Regions from separate parts of the Homo sapiens genome. Here region 1 is linked to region 2. A link means that fine-mapping ties the variant in region 2 to the expression of a gene that starts in the linked region. Tissue or cell type: whole blood. Region 2 holds a variant in brackets; the other region holds the start of a gene. All regions are shown on one strand. Distances are between the middles of the regions.

Region 1 (8,154 bases), 30 kb after region 2:
AGACGCACTATGCTACAGTGCAGCTTTCTCAGACTAAGCAATCACACTTCAACCTCACGATTTCTACCATAGTTGAACTATTATTCACTATATAGTTTTTTTTACTATATAGTTCTTTACTATATAGTTTTTCTTTACTATATAGTTCTTTACTATATAGTTTTCTTTAAAGTGACTTAGCTTTAAAAATTAATAGCTATAATTTTCATGAAATACAGCTTTCATGTGCTAGATTTATGTCTGTTTCAATTCTGCTTTAAAATAAATAAAAAGTTTTTGTCTATCTAAAATGTCTATCTCATGAATCTCATCGTCTAATTCATGTCTATCTCATGAATCTCAATGTGGGAAATACTGCATAGAGAAAAGAGTATTTAACATGGAGAAATCTATGTTTTCACCCTAATCCCCCAATAAATACTGTTTACTATCAAGCAAGTTCTCCTGAACTCAGTCTCCTCATCTCTAAAAGAGAGGTCTGACTCTGAGAGGCCAAGGCGGTTGGATCACCTGAGGTCAGGAGTTCGAGACCAGCCTGCCAATACGGCAAAACCATCTCTACTGAAAATAAATTAGCCAGCCACGGTGGTGCAAGCCTGTAGTCCCAGCTACCTGAGTTCGGAAGCTGAAGCAGGAGAATCGCTTGAACCCAGGAGTCGGAGGTCGCAGTAAGCCGAGATCGTGCCACTGCACTCCAGCCTGGGCGACAGAGTGGGGACTCTGTCTCAAAAAAATAAAATACAATAAAAGAGAGGACTGGACTAAATGTCTTAAGGTCAGATTCAAGTTCCCTGACTCCAAGTTTCAGTGATGACCTACAGTTATTCCAGCTTTGCTACTGTCAATGAGTTGCCTAAAGTTTCCAGTGTCCTTATCATATCTCCTGTGATGATTTTAAACCTTAGCTATAAAATACAGCCATGGGTTATAAAATATAGCACCCTCATGAAACAATGACTGGAAACTAAATTGGCACAATCCTTCTGTTGTATTATTTGATAGTACCATATTTGTAGAAATTCCATACTAGGAATTTATTTGAAGGAAATAAGCAAAGATTTGCCAAATGTTTATGTGCAGGGATAGTCATAACAGTATTTATTACAACAAACAATAGTTAACAACATACGCGTCCAATAAAAATGTTTAATAACTATACAACTTTGATAAAATTAAACATCTTTTTTTTTGAGACAGAGTTCCGCTCTTTTCACCTAGGCTGGAATGCAATGGCGCCATCTCGGCTCGCTGCAACCTCCGCCTCCCAGTTTCAAGTGATTCTCCTGCCTCAGCCTCCCAAGTAGCTAGGATTACAAGCGCCCACCACCATGCCTGGCTAATTTTTGTATTTTTAGTAGAGACAGGGTTTTGCCATGTTGGCCAGGCTGGTCTTGAACTCCTGACCTCTGGTGATTCACCCACCTCAGCCTCCCAAAGTGCTAGGATTACAGGCGTGAGACACCCCGCCCAGCTTAAACATCATTTTTAAGACTGCTTAATGATGTGTGAACATGCTCACTATAAATGAGAATAAAAAAGTAACCTATCATTTAGAATATGACAATTTTAGAATACAACCATTTTGCAAATACAAATGCAACAGAAATAAAAAAGAAAAAGAAAAAAAAAGAATAAAAGAAAATGCACCCAAGAGTTAATTATAATCATCTCTGTGTGGCAAGGCAGAATTATGAGGGATCTTAATTTACCTTTTTTACATTTGCATGAAATAGATATAGTTTCCTTCTTTTATAATAAATATGCTTTACTTTTTTTTTTTTTTTTTTTTTTTTGAGACAGGGTATCACTCTGTCTGTCACCCAGCTTGGAGTGTAGTAGCACAATCTCGGCTCATGACAACCTCTGCATCCCGGGCTCAAGTGATACTCCCACCTCAGCCTCCAGAGAAGCTGGGACCACAGGCGCGAGCCACCATGCCCAGCTAATTTTTTGTATTTTTGGTAGAGACGGGGGTTTCGTCATGTTGCCTAGGCTGGTCTTGAATTCCTGACCTCAAGTGACCTGCCCGACTCAGCCCCCAAAGTGCTGGGATTACAAGCATGAGCCATTGCGCCAGGCCTACTCTCCTAGACTTTGGTTAACCTGACCCCAACCAGTAGCAGTATCTGGGACTGTTTAATGTTACCTAACTACTTCAGTATGTCGCATTAACAACATTTAGCAAGCAAGTCAAACAATCTCTGTTCTTTCTTTCTTTTTTTTCGAGATGGGGTCTTGCTCAGGCTGGAGTGCAGCGTTGCAATCTCGACTCACAGCAACCTCCGCCTCCCAGGTTCAAGCGATTCTCTCTCCTCAGCCTCCCGAGTAGCTAGGATCACAGGTGCCTGCCACTGCGCCTCGCTAATTGTTTTTGAATTTTTTATAGAGACGCAGTTTCACCAAGTAGCCCAGGCTGGTCTAGAACTGCTAAGGTCAAGTGATCCGCCCGCCTTGACCTCACAAAGTGCTGGGATTACAAGTGTGAACTGGTTAAATAAATCATACTAGATTCAGAAAATACATACTACAAAAACAGAATGAAATGGATTTGTCCGTTTTCATGTGAAATATATCCCAGACACAAAGTGAAACCACACTAGTGCAGAGTATATACACATAGTATGCTCACATATTACATACAAGAAAAGATACACGTTGGCCGGGCGCGGTGGCTCACGCCTGTAATCCGAGCACTTTGGAAGGCCGAGCCGGGTGGATCACGAGGTCAGGAGATGGGGACCAGCCTGGCTAACACAGTGAAACCCCATCGCTACTAAAAATACAAAAAATTAGCCCGGCGTGGTGGCATGCGCCTGTAGTCCCAGCTACTAGGGAGGCTGAGACAGGAGAATTGCTTGAACCCAGGAGGCAGACAGAGCAAGACTCCGTCTCAAAAAACAAACAAACCAAAAAGAAAAAAAGAAAAAAGGTACACGTATCTGCGCTTAAAAAGTAAACCTTTCTAGAAGGAAAACTCTGTTCCCCTCCGAAGAATGGGACTGAGGTAGGGAACGAAAGAGGGCGTTGTTTTTTATGCTATGCACGTCTATCCTGTTTGCTATCCTTACAAAAAAAAAAAAAAAAAGAAGGAAAACAAAAGAAAAAGGCCTTGTGGAAGCATTATTTCTATGTAAATGGGTTTCAAAATGAGTTTCAAAACGGGTTCTATTTTGAAAAGTAAGGTCAACATTTTTTGAGAAAAAAACTCCTGCGATTGGCTTTTCAAAAACAACCCTCTTAAGAGAGAATTTACATACCACAAATTCACCCATTGTATAGTGTAGATTGTTAACTGCCTTTCGTGCCGAGCTGTAAGAATTTATTTGGCATGAGAAACAAAATATTTTATAGAACCATGCACAAGAATAGCCTTCGTGTCTACGAAATCTAAGGATATCAAAATGAGATAATTTTATGACTGCAACAAGGGTAAATAATACTTGGCCTTGGGAATATGGGGGAAAGGTCAGAACTACAAGATCTCATAGAGCTTAACCACACCAAAAAAGAAAGAGAAAAGAAAGAAACAAAGAAAACAAAACAGAACGAGCAGACTCTAGCAGGGCTAATGACAGTCTTCCAAAGGCACCAGCACGTTGAACAAGCTGCGGCTCAGCTCGATGGACCCCCAAGAGTGGCTGCCACTGGGAGGACTTGGGCCTCTGAAACAAAGCCCGGTGGTTTCCTTTCATCTCTGAACTTCGAGCTCGACCTAACTTTCCAGTCCCTTCCCCCACCGCCACCCCATAACCCGCCCGAAGCGGCCCACGGAGGCCGGAGGTTTTGGGGCGCAGTCGCTCAGCAGCCCGAGGTCTCTGTCCCGGGCGGCGGGAGGGAAATGCCGCGCCCGCAGCCAGGGACCCGCGTGCCCAGCTTCGGCCCCTCGCCCGCGAAGTCCGACCCGGGTGACAGCGCACGGCCGGCCCTGGGCCCAGAGCTCCCACCTGTGCCCCGCAGCATGTTGTCCCGGAGCAGGTCCCCGCTGGAGAGGTGCTTCAGCTCGAAGTGTGTAGTGATGCGCGACGACACGGTGCCCTTGCCCGAGCCCGGGGCCCCCATGATCACCGCTCGCAGCAGCCGCGCGGACGCCCCCATGGCCGCAGACTGAGGCCCGCACCGCGCGGGTACCAGGGCTTTGGCCTGGCCTGCGCGCTCACCCGCTCGGCAGCCTGCGCCGGCCGGCTAGCAGCGCCACTAGCAGGCGGCTACTGCGGTTCCCCGGCGTTCCCGGAAGTGAGCCGACAGCCCCTGGGGCCGCCCAGACAGCGCGGGACCCCGCTGTTGCGTCCGCCTCTCGGCTACCCCGGCGCACCCCCCGCCCCCGACCGAGCGCCTGTTCCCGCCCAGCCGCGCAAGCCGCGCAAGCCGCGCCCCCTCTGCGCTCGCTCGGCCGCCCAGCTCCCACCTGCGCCTCTCCGCGGCCCCTCTCCACCGGCCGCTGGGCCCGGATCCCTTCGGCGCCCCTCTGCACCCACCCCCACGCGCCCTCCACTCGGCTCAGATCTACCTCCGCGCCTCTCCGCGACCCCGGAACCCCGCGCCCTGTCCGGCCCATTCCCAGCCGGATAGACCGCGCTCCCCTCTGTCCGACCTTGGCAACTCCTGCGCGCCCCCTCCCCACCTCTAGTCGCCCCTCGGAGCCGCTTGGTTTCGGGATCCACCCGCATCCACCCCTCCAACAACCCTTTCGTAGCCCTCGCCCCTAGTCCATAGCAGGCGCTGCCCTACCCAGTCCTTGCCGGACACACCGCGACCCCTTTCGTGCTCCCTTGACAACCCTGGCCCCACCTCCACCTGGCGCCCACTCGAATCCGCCCCTCCCTTCTACCCCCCTGGACCGCCAGACCCCCCGCTTCTGCACCCACTCCCGCCTTCGCCCTTCCCTCCTTCCTCCTCCTCCTCTGCTGCCGAGCGCCCTCTCTTCCCACTCCCTCTCTGTGTAGAATCACAGGGAGTGACCTTGAGCCGAGAGGGCCTACCTCATTTTACAGGAGAGGAAATCCAGCTTCCATTGAGTGAGACTCTTTTATAAATAACGTAAAAGAGTGTGTGAAACTGTGGAGGCAGGCTGTTGTAGATAGGCGGTCGGAAAAGCTTTGAAGAGATGGCATGTGTGCTGAGTGCTTAATTAGAATATGGAAGAGAGAGACATGGGCCCTTCCTATGTCCAGTTTTAGGAAAAGGCCCTAAAACTGGAGGTTTGGCATGTTTCAAGAATGGAAACAGAGGACAAAAACGTTCGAGTGAGTATCATTTTGCCTGTAAAATGGGCATAGAGGAGTAGAATGGAGGAGTTAAAATAATGTAGTACTTAGTGCAATGCCAGCTACGGGGTCAATGTTCAATAATGGTTGTCCATTTATCATCATTGCTTTGTCCCGGACACTATGCTAAGGCAGAAAGAAGGCTCTCTGAAAATAAAACACAGTTACCATTCTCCTCAGAGGTCCAGAACTGATTTCAAAGAAGATAGAAATGACTTCAGGGTGAGACAGTCAGTGAATCGTAGCTGAGTGAATGGATGGGGGATTTCAATAGGTAGACAGCCTGGTACTTAGAAAAGGCATTAGCCTTTATACTTTCTGGTGTGGAAAAGAAAGAAAGAAAATACATACCTTGTACATTTTTTTTTCTTTGAGACAGAGTTTTGCTCTTGTTGCCCAGGCTGGAGTGCAATCGGCTCACGGCAACCTCTGCCTCCCGGGTTCAAGTGATTCTCCTGCCTCAGCCTCCCGAGTAGCTGGGATTACAGGCACACGCTACCGCACCCGGCTAATTTTATATTTTTAGCAGAGACAGGGTTCCTTCATGTTGCTTAGACTGGTCTGAAACTCCCGACGTCAGGTGATCCACCCGCCTTGGCCTTCCAAAGTGCTGGGATTACAGATGTGAGCCACCGCGCCCGGCCTCGTTTTGTTTCTTTGAGACGGGGTCTTGTTTTGTTGCCCAGGCTGGAGTGCTGTGATGCGATCTCAGCTCACTGCAACCTCTACTTCCCAGGTTCAGGTGATTCTTATACCTCAGCTTCCCGAGTAGCTGGAATTACAGGCACCCGCCACCACGCCCAGCTGATTTTTATATTTTTCGTAGAGATGGGATTTCACCATGTTGGCCAGGCTGATCTCAAACTCCTGACCTCAAATGATCTGCCCGCCTTGACCTCTCCAAGTGCTGGGATTACAGGCTTGAGCCACCCCACTGTGCCCAGCAGGGCTCATACATACTCATTACTAAGCAAGAAAGAATGAAAAGAATGAAAATAAATGAATTAAACATTGAATTCATGTAATTGGGAAAAGGACATCAAAATAACCCATGGAAAGCAGAGGAAGGGATGAAGTAAACAACATAAATGAAAGGATGAGAAAACTTGAACAGAACTAACTAAAGAATGAGCAAGTCTGGACAAGTACAACTTATGCAATACTAGAAAATCTGAAGGTGTGGAGAAAGTACTTCTAATCTCCAAAGCTGGGAACATAGGAGGTTTCAGCTCCAAAAGAAACCAGAAAGAAAATCCTGGGGAAATTTGGTTTAGAAAAAAAAAATGTTCAAACAAACAAAAATAGCTGAGGAATCATCCTGTCATTGCGGGGATGAAAAGCTGAGTGTCGTGGTCATATTAACAGGCCCGCAAAACACCAATCAACTTTGGCTTTGCAAAAGGTTGTTGATTACAAATGAGTAACTGCCAGTCTGTGAAATCTCCTGGCAACTGTGCCTGGCATAGTCTTTTCGCCATTCACAGGCCTTTGTATGGATCTGTTCCTCACTGCCTACCTTGTTCCAACTGAAAAACACTGAGGTCAAATTCATTCAAATTCTAATTTAATGACCAAGTGTTTATACAGATTAGTTTGAAGCAAATAAAGCCCAGATGAGTGCTTTGCACATAGTAGGCACTCAGTAGGGTTTTGTTGATTAAATACTAAGAATTACTGTTTTGTCACTTTTGTTTGTTTGTTTTTGAGACGGAGTCTCTCTGTCACCCAGGCTGGTGCAGTGGCGAGATATTGGCTCACTGCAACCTCTGCCTCCTGGATTCAAGAGATTCTCTTGCTTCAGCCTCCCAAGTAACTGGGACTACAGGCCTGCACCACCATGCCCCGCTAATTTTTGTATTTTTAGTAGCGGTTTTGCCATTTTGGCCAGGCTGGTCTTGAACTCCTGACCTCAAATGATCCTCCTGCTTTGGCCTGCCAAAGTTCTGGGATTACAGGCATGAGCCACCATGCCCGGCCTTTGTCACATTTGAAGACTGAAATGTTTAAGTCTTCAATGTACAACTCTACAATGTACAACTGAGGGGGAAATGATAGGCATGTGTCATGGGTTGAATTGTATTCCCCCAGGAGATATATTGAAGTCCTAATCCCCAGTACCTCAGAAGATGACCTTACTTACACATAGGGTCTTTGCAGACATAAGTAGTTAAGATCAGGTCATAGTGGAAGATGGTCAGCTCTTAATCCAATATGACCTGAAAACATAGCAGGAGAATGCCATGTGACGATGGAAGCAGATATTGGGCTTATACAGCTACAAGCCGAGGAACACCAAAGATTGCTAGGGACACTAGAAGCCAAGAGAAAGACACAAAGCTGATTCTCCCCTAGGATCCTTGGGAGAGAATAACCCTGCCCTTACCTTGGCTATGAATTGTAGTCACTAGAACTGTGAGAGAATAACTTTCTATTGTTTCAAGCCCCCTAGTTTGTGGTAATTTGTTACTGTAGCTCTAGGGAACTAATACAGCTTGTTTCCAAGAAACATGTATATGTGTTTGTATGTTGCTTCACACTATGTGTTACCTAGGTGAGAACAAAAGAATAGGAGGGTTCATGTTTGAGAAATAATTACTAGGATTGTAGTGATTGTAGTAAGACAAAGAGAAGGAAGGTACATCAGTTATCCACTACTATAAAAATCCACTCCAGGCCAGGTGTGGTGGCTCACACCTGTAATCCCAGCACTTTGGGAGGCCAAGACGGGAGGATCACTAGAGTCCAGGAGTTTGAGACCAGCCTAGGCAACATAATGACACCCCCTCCTCTACAAAAAAAAAAAAAAAAAAGAAGAAGAAGAAGAACATTAGCCAGTGTGGTGGTGTGCACCTGTGGTCCCAACTATTTGGGAAGCTGAGGTGGGAGGATT
Region 2 (8,195 bases):
TAAAAAAGGAGTCTTAAAAATGATTTTTTTTTTAAAGGCAAGAGAAATCTTGTAGTGCTAACTGCCTTGAGCTGCCAATTACCTATTTCTGAGAATTTGGTGACTCTTATTGGTAATGATGGCATTTACAACATTTGGCATTTCCCCTTTTTCAGCTCAGTTACCATAGAATACTTCCAAGCTTTACTACTTCCTCTGTAAGTCATTTCAGTTATGCCAGGATATTTGATGATTTTGTTTATGTAGAATTAGGTAACAAAGCCAATTATGCTATCCTTATTATTGAAGGATTAATCTTATGACTTAACATAAGCTTTGGTTATATTTGGGTGTAGTCTTTGGCTAAGTACCCATTAAGGCTAGTAGCAAACACTTGGAAGGTGGCTAACTGGGACTGGGAATACGTGTCTCAACTTGAGAAACCAAATAGTGCGAAGGGACTCAGGGTGGCCAGACCTGTGACCTTGGCCTCATTTGTATCTTGTTTTCGCTGAGGTGATCAGACACTTAGTACCCTAGAAATGGACTGGAATTATTGAATCTTCTTCTGTAACATCACAATCTTCCTGGTTTTCAGAATAAACGTTTTTGTGCTTTTGATATAAATATATACTCTATAATAAAATGTTTGACTAATTTATATAGTAGTGTTTGTCAGCCTGTACTTTTTTTTTTTTTAAACCCATGACCTAGTCGTAGACATTTTTTTCTTTTTGTTCTGTTCTGAAGCAAGCTCTTATTTTTCCCTTTCTACCAAATTGAGAGAATGGGCAGACACAGGAGCCATATTCCTAGTTTCACAGAAATGTTACTTGAATTATTATTTTCCCTTCTTTCCCAGGATTTGCCTGTAAGCATTCAAATTGTTTTGAATTTCATTTTGCCTTCTCTAAGTTAGAGGTATTTAATGACTGAAGACTGGCAGGAGAGAAAGTATCAACAAACTGAGTAAACTATTCTTGAGGGGCACTGAAAAGATGTTCTTTGAAACTTGATTTATATATTTTTACTTGCAAAAGAATATACTGTGTTTTGAGTATGAAAGTGTGATTGGGTCTGTTGTGGGAACCACTGACTGATGCCATAATTTGCACTTAAAGGCTATAAATTACATAGTTAGCCGTACTTTAGTACTAGAAACAGTAAATTGACATCCTTGAACTAATTCCTACCTTTTTTTTGTTTCTGAAGAAATAAAGAGTATATTAAGCAAAGGGATAATTTATATTTCAGGTTGGACAATTTACCCTAAACAAATTAAACCATGGAAAGTGCAAACACATGAATGAAACATTTTTTTACATCAAAGTATCATCAAAGATTCTTGTTTCATTTGATAAAATTAATATTTGAATAAAAAAATTTTTAAATCAAATAGCTGTCCATTTATTCTCTGTTAACTCAGTGTCATTTTTTCAGTGGTAGTGAAGATAATACTGCCTTAAAATTATTACTCTTAGGTAGATGGGTAACATTCTCTTCCAATTATACCATTAGTGAGCTCTTTCAAATTTTGCCTAATGAGCTCACAATCTCTTATAACTTCTCTTTAGGAAAATCAGGTCCTCCTCTTCTTTCAGACTGGCATATCATATTATTACCCTTTTAAAAATGAATGAACAGCCGGGCGCAGTAGCTTACGCCTGTAATCCCGGCACTTTGGGAGGCCGAGGCGGGTGGATCCTGAGGTCAGGAGATCGAGACCATCCTGGCCAACATGGTGAAACCCTGTCTCTACCCAAAATACAAAAATTAGCTGGGCATGGTGGCGCGTGGCTGTAGTCCCAGTTACTCAGGAGGCTGAGGCAGGAGAATCGCTTGAACCCCGGGAGGCAGAGGTTGCAGTGAGCCAAGATGGCGCCACTGCACTCCAGCCTGGCAACATCTAAAAATGAAAATGAACATGCTGCCCAAAGAACATGAATCTGTTTTAGTAAGTGGATTTTCTAACAGGATGAAAAAAGTTGACTGTAGGTTTAGGCAAGGTGATCCTGAAGTTAACCTTTGGGTATTTTCAGAGGAGAACGAAATGTCAGTTTACTTTTCTAAGTCAATCATGTATTTCAGTTCTTAAATTGGTGTGGGACAGAACCGAGGTACTTGTCTGGGTTGAGGTTGGGCTTTCCATTTCATGGGCTTTCCATTTCAATTTTGCCATTATAGCAAACATACTTTTAACAAAACCCTTAAATCCATCCATCTCTCATCTGTAATGGACATGTATATACAATTGCATAGTTCTGAGAAGTTGATTTATCTGAAAATTATTTGCTCACTATGTGAGCCAAGGGGGTCGGGAGGGGGACACAGGGTGAATATAAGTTCATTATGGATTGTTCACCATCTAATATGAAGTGAAACCATTCTCATAAGCTTTGAAGAATTAGACTTGTTTGATCTCTAAATATAGAAAATGATTATTAAAATTCCCACATCTTTCACACAGTTAACAGCATGATTCTTCATGTTATTTACACATCAGACATTTAACTTGGAATGCTTTAGAAAAAGATGACACAGTGCTGGACTGATTTACACTTAGGCATGACAGTTTATTCAGTGCTATATATGGAAAAATCAGTGTTTATATTATTTAGTGAGCTAAAAACAAATAAAAAGCAGGAGGGGGATAAGGGCTCTACAAAGCATACTGGCTTTTACCAGAAGCTTTAAGCACAGCTACACTATTTTAACTGTTTAAAAATTTTTTAACCATAACTTCCAAGATGAAAATCTTTAACTGCAAAGATAGAAAAGCTATTTCTACAGTTTATCAGGGCCTGAGGATTTATTTTTATTTTTATTTTTATTTTTTGGTCAATGAGAAGACACAACATATTCTAAAATACAAATTCTTGCTGTTGGTTGCAACTATAGCAATTTAACATAATTTGAGATCTATAATTACAATGATTTGTTGTTAGTATAGGGCAGTTTTGTCACAAGTTATGAGGATCCAAAATATCTTGCTAGAATGCCATTATATATAGCTGGGGGAAAAGTAGCCATAGGGTGGGGTTTAGAGATTTGAGCCAGTATTTAAACTATTTGAAATGGAACTGACAGAAATTTCTGGATGGTGCTAACAACTGCTAGTTTGCATTTCCCACAGTACACGCTGCTTACAAAAGGTATAGCAAAATAACTTTTACTCTATAAAATAAATCAGTTGAGGTGCTGTTCTCCCTGGCTTTTTTTTTTGAGACGGAGTCTCCCTCTGTCGCCCAGGCTGGAGTGCAGTGGCACGATCTCAGCTCACTGCAACCTCCGCCTCCCGGATTCACACCATTCTCCTGCCTCAACCTCCCGAGTAGCTGGGACTACAGGCGCCCGCCACCATGCCCGGCTAATTTTTTTTTTTTTTTTTTGTATTTTTAGTAGAGACGGGGTTTCACCGTGTTAGCCAGGATGGTCTCGATCTCCTGACCTCGTGATCCGCCCGCCTCGGCCTCCCAAAGTGCTGGGATTACAGGCGTGAGCCACCGCGCCCGGCCTCTCATTGGCTTTTAACAAAAGTATAGTAGTTTCTCCTAGCCATGGCATTCAGCTCCATACATGTATTTCCATGTGGTACATAAATCTTAATGATGGTCATTACAGAATTATTTTTTTGGGTGGGGGCAGTGGCTTACACCTGTAATCTCAGCACTTGGGAAGCTGAATCAGGAAGACTGTTTGAGGCCAGGAGACTAGCCTGGGCAACATATCGAGACGCCGTCTCTACAAAA[AAAT/A]AAAATTAGCCAGGCATGGTGGTACATACCTGTAGTTTCAGCTACTTGGGAGGCTGAGGTAGAAGAATTGCGTGAGCCCAGGAGTTCAACGTTACAGTGACCCAATTATGCCACTGCACTCTAGTCTGGGCAACAGAGTGAGGCCCTGTCTAAAAAAAAATAAAGAAAAAAGTTGTATTACAGTCATATTCATTCCTAAAGTAATGAATGTATGTGCAAAACTTTGGGCTAAGTGTTTGCGGGTGGGGAGGGAATGGTCACAGGAAATAAGAGTCTTAATTCTCATAGCCATGTTCTTCCACTGCTCACTTTGATTTCCAAATCCCCTAAGGGTATTATGAAGGCCGGTATGGCTACCATAGCAGGAGATGAAGTATTGCATAAACTGAAACCAGCCTATGGACTGTTTTAAGATCATTTATTAGAACAGTCATTCAGAAGCCATTGAGACATCAGGCAGCAGAAAGGAAGGTGGGATGGAGCAGGCCCTGTGAAGGACCAAGAACAAAGTAATAGCCACAGTTATGAAATTTCATTTTATTCTGATAAAGACTAATATATGCTTGATAACCTAGTGATAATCCATAAGTTTGGTATTTCACAACATTTTTTAGAAAGCACATAAGATTAACATTCAAATAAGGCATTATAGAAAGTTTTATAAAGAATGAAGTGTTTCCTATATTTCTTTTAAAAAACCTTGGTTCATCTTGAAAGATCGATGAATTTTTTAAATATCAGAAGAAAAGGGAAATAAAATTTTCCCCCCAAAACACATAAGAACCACTTACTGGCACTTGTATTTTAAGTACCTGGGAAAAAAACGGAACAGATTTTTAAAGGCAATAACGACTTGTAAGACGGCTTGTTTCATTTGATTTGGCACGAAGTAAAGTAAGAGTAAATATGCCATGGAAGACATAATCAAGTTTTTCCTCCATCTCTCATATTTCCCCACTTCTACCAGACCACACAGTACATCAGCAACCATCCTTTAGATTCCAATTTTTAAATGGCTGCTCAGACGACACCAATAGAGTTCTTTCTCCTTAAAATATGGTGGCAGTGAATGCTAACAGGTATCAATTTCTTTGATCAGGAACAAAGAACTCCTTCAGGAAACTCACTTTCCTGGTCCTTGTTAACCTATCATGTAAATTCTTTTTATTGGTACACCTGTTTACTAATTATGATTGATTGCTATTTATGCCAAGGGAGCATTTCCCAGGCATGCCTCATCTATTTACTAACAACAAAGTATGCTTACTTTATTTACATAGTGCCACGGGTTTCTCTTTTTTCTTCTCTTTTTTATTGGCGGGGGAGATGGTACTATAACTTGTTATTTATCAGGGCAGATCACACATTTGGATCAAAAAGAAAAACCAGCAAGTAGATCCTAAAACACATTTCTTAACCTGAGTCATAACTGAAAACATAGACTTTAATTACATTTTGTTGAAAATTCATTCAACTTTGGTGCTTGTAAAAGCACTTATGTCAATTTTTGACACAAATCATAACCCTCAGTACACAGGTATTTTCAAAGGAAACAAGTCATCTTAAAGTAATATTTTTCTATATGCTAATTGATACATCTTTATAGCAAATTGAAAATTCTGAGTAAACTGAAAGTATGCTTAACGACAAAATAAATACAGCATATATGGTTAACATATACATTTCTTAGTGTAAAGGCAGCAGTGAATTTGTGTCTCACAATAAATCTGTAAATCCAGTTGCTTTCTTTCTGGAATTTTATATAGTGTCTCACCATGTTCCACAATGCTGGAAATGTCTTTTTTGGCATCAATCTATGCACAAATTTCTGATTACGTATTTTCTCCAAATGACATGTAACTTTTTTTAACTTTTCCAGAAAAATATGGAAACTTTATCAACCACTTATTAACTGAACAAAAAGTTAGATTACTACCAAATGCTCTTTTAATTTTGCTCTAACAGATGTTTTAAAGGTTCAGACATCGCTGATGTTTTTGAGGATAACTGCATACAACACACTAGATGATTTCAAACGATGCATCTTAGTATCCGAATCATTTGGCACATCCTTAGTATCCAAAATAAAATCAGTAGAAATAAAAGTAATATAATTTTCAAAGAATTCATACATACTAGAAGTCTTAGGAAAAGCAGCTTCTAAATGCAAGGACTAGGAGGTTTGCCCATCTTACTATTAATAGTTACACACATTTCTCCTCATGGAGTAACTGAAGCTTTCTGGCTTCTTTGTGGAACTTTAGTTTGTAGGAAAGCATATACATAGGGCCAAATCTTGTTGGTTTCTGTTCCGGAGAATGTTTCCAGCACCCCTTTTTTCCTAAAGATGAAACAAAAACAAAACAAACACACACAGGTCTGAGTCTTCCTAATAAGCTCTTTCAAAGCCTTTCTGTAAATAATGATATTGTAGATATAGGAGTCTTGGTAAGTATAGATTTGTGTAATCAGGAGAGAAAGGCACTTGGCTGGGCATTGGAAAATGTACATTTTGGTTTCAGTTGTGCTCTCTGGCTTACAAAAATGGGTGCTTAAAAAAATAACAGCACCTATCATTTATTTTATTTATTGAACATGCACTGTGTGTCAAAGGCTGTGCTACATGCTTTACATATTATAGTTTGTTTAATCCTTTCCAAAGCTCAAATTTTCTTATTTTACTAATAAAATCATCCCTTTGTAATGTAACTTAGCCCAAATCACCAAGTTGGTAGTACATTTCCAAACAGGACCTATAAGATACCAGAACACCCATCAGCCTTTTTTTTCTACTTACTCTTTTGCAAAAGCTACTTTCTAATACTTGAGTATCTTTCCTTTTTGCCCAGGCCAACATTTATGTTCTCCTCTATTCCACTCTTCTGAATATTAACAGAAAGGGGAATAAAAAGTGTTGGTTTTATTGGGTTTCCTATTGACTGTCTTCATTTCTTCCCAGGCAGATTTGTCTAGCTTGTCACTAGACCAGCAGCCAAAGTCTATTTTATTTACTCCAGTTTCCTGTGGATAACATGGTGAAGAGTGAGATCAGAATCCTGGGGGTGCTTTTCAAGCCACACAGATTCCCTCCAAAGATTCTGGCCTTCCTCTTGCTAATACCCGTCCTCTAGCCCATGCGTACACCTACGCCTACACATATACACCTCCACATATACACACCTCCACATATACACGCCTACACATATACACACCTCCACATTTACACACCTACACATATACGCCTACACATATACACCTACACATATACAGCTACACATATACATCTACACATATACACCTACACATATACACACCTACACATATACACACCTACACATATACACACCTACACATATACACACCTCCACATATACACACCTACACATATACACACCTCCACATACACACACCTCCACACATACGCCTCCACATACACACACCTCCACATATACACCTCCACACATTCGCCTCCACACATACACACTGGTGTAAAGACTGCATAAGGACAACCTAAGAACTCTGGTTTATGACTTTGTGAAAAGAGGATTCCTTATACCTGTGTGGCCCTTCTTCCGAGGTTTTCAGGGCTTTCACTAAGGACAAAAGCATTCTTCCCTTGATACCTCATAAAATTTGCCACAGTTAACTTAAATAACACCCACTGTTTTCTCGGTAAGAAACATCTGCTAAGGAAGGAAATTATGCAAATACAGCATTCTTGGGATATTAGAAACCCTCCTGCTTCTAAATTCACTGGCACCTGGTACTGCTTTCAAGGGAACAAGCTTCTTAACTGTTGTAAGCCTCTTGAAGAGCCGATTTAAAAATCAAGCCAGTGTCACAAGTGGGTTAATTACTGAGGGCACAATTGCAGGCACCTATTCGATCCTAAATCGTGGGTGAACATTTGTCATTTTAATTTCTGTGTAATAAAATGGAACCAGCTTCAACAATTGGTCCTCCAAAGAGTAAGGGCATCATGTTGTTTGTAAACATAGACCAGTTACTCTATAATGTCCCACAGCTAAAAGGTTTTTTTTAAAACAACCAACAATACAACTGTCAGCATTTCTAAATAACAATGCTGACTATTACTAACATTCTTGCAAATAAACTTTCAGTTTTTAGTCAAGTCTCGCTGAGTTCTACGTGTGGGAGCTGAGAATGAAAAGACTGAATTCGGCCGGGTGTGGTGGCTCAAGTCTGTAATCCCAGCACTTTGGGAGGCCAAGGAGGGTGGATCACTTGAGGTCAGGAGTTCAAGACCAGCCTGGCCAACATGGCGAAACCCCGTCTCTACTAAAAATACAAAAATTAGCAGGACATGGTGGCACGTGCCTGTAGTCCTAGCTACTGGGGAGGCTGAGGCATAAGAATCGCTTGAACCTGGGATGAGGAGGCTGCAGTGAGCTGGGATGGCACCACTGCACTCCAACCTGAGAGAGAGTGAGACTCCGTCTCAAA

The links. PIP is the estimated chance that this variant, and not a neighbour inherited with it, causes the effect.
Region 1: AK3 starts here. The variant in region 2 is fine-mapped to the expression of AK3 in whole blood (TOPMed, PIP above 0.99).

The regions. Positions count from the first base shown.
Region 1 is chr9:4,736,993-4,745,146 of GRCh38, forward strand. AK3 (adenylate kinase 3) reads right to left here and starts at 4,210. Exons shown (of 5, transcript NM_016282.4): 1 at 3,945-4,210. The coding sequence starts at 4,095. RefSeq lists silencers at 3,740-3,879, 4,110-4,599.
Region 2 is chr9:4,707,025-4,715,219 of GRCh38, forward strand. It overlaps CDC37L1 (cell division cycle 37 like 1, HSP90 cochaperone), which reads left to right. Exons shown (of 7, transcript NM_017913.4): 7 at 1-1,375. AK3 (adenylate kinase 3) reads right to left here. Exons shown (of 5, transcript NM_016282.4): 5 at 2,532-6,072. The coding sequence ends at 5,952. Among named protein-coding and RNA genes, the nearest start is that of AK3, 30 kb to the right of the region's middle. The variant AAAT/A (reference allele first, on the strand shown) is at 3,729.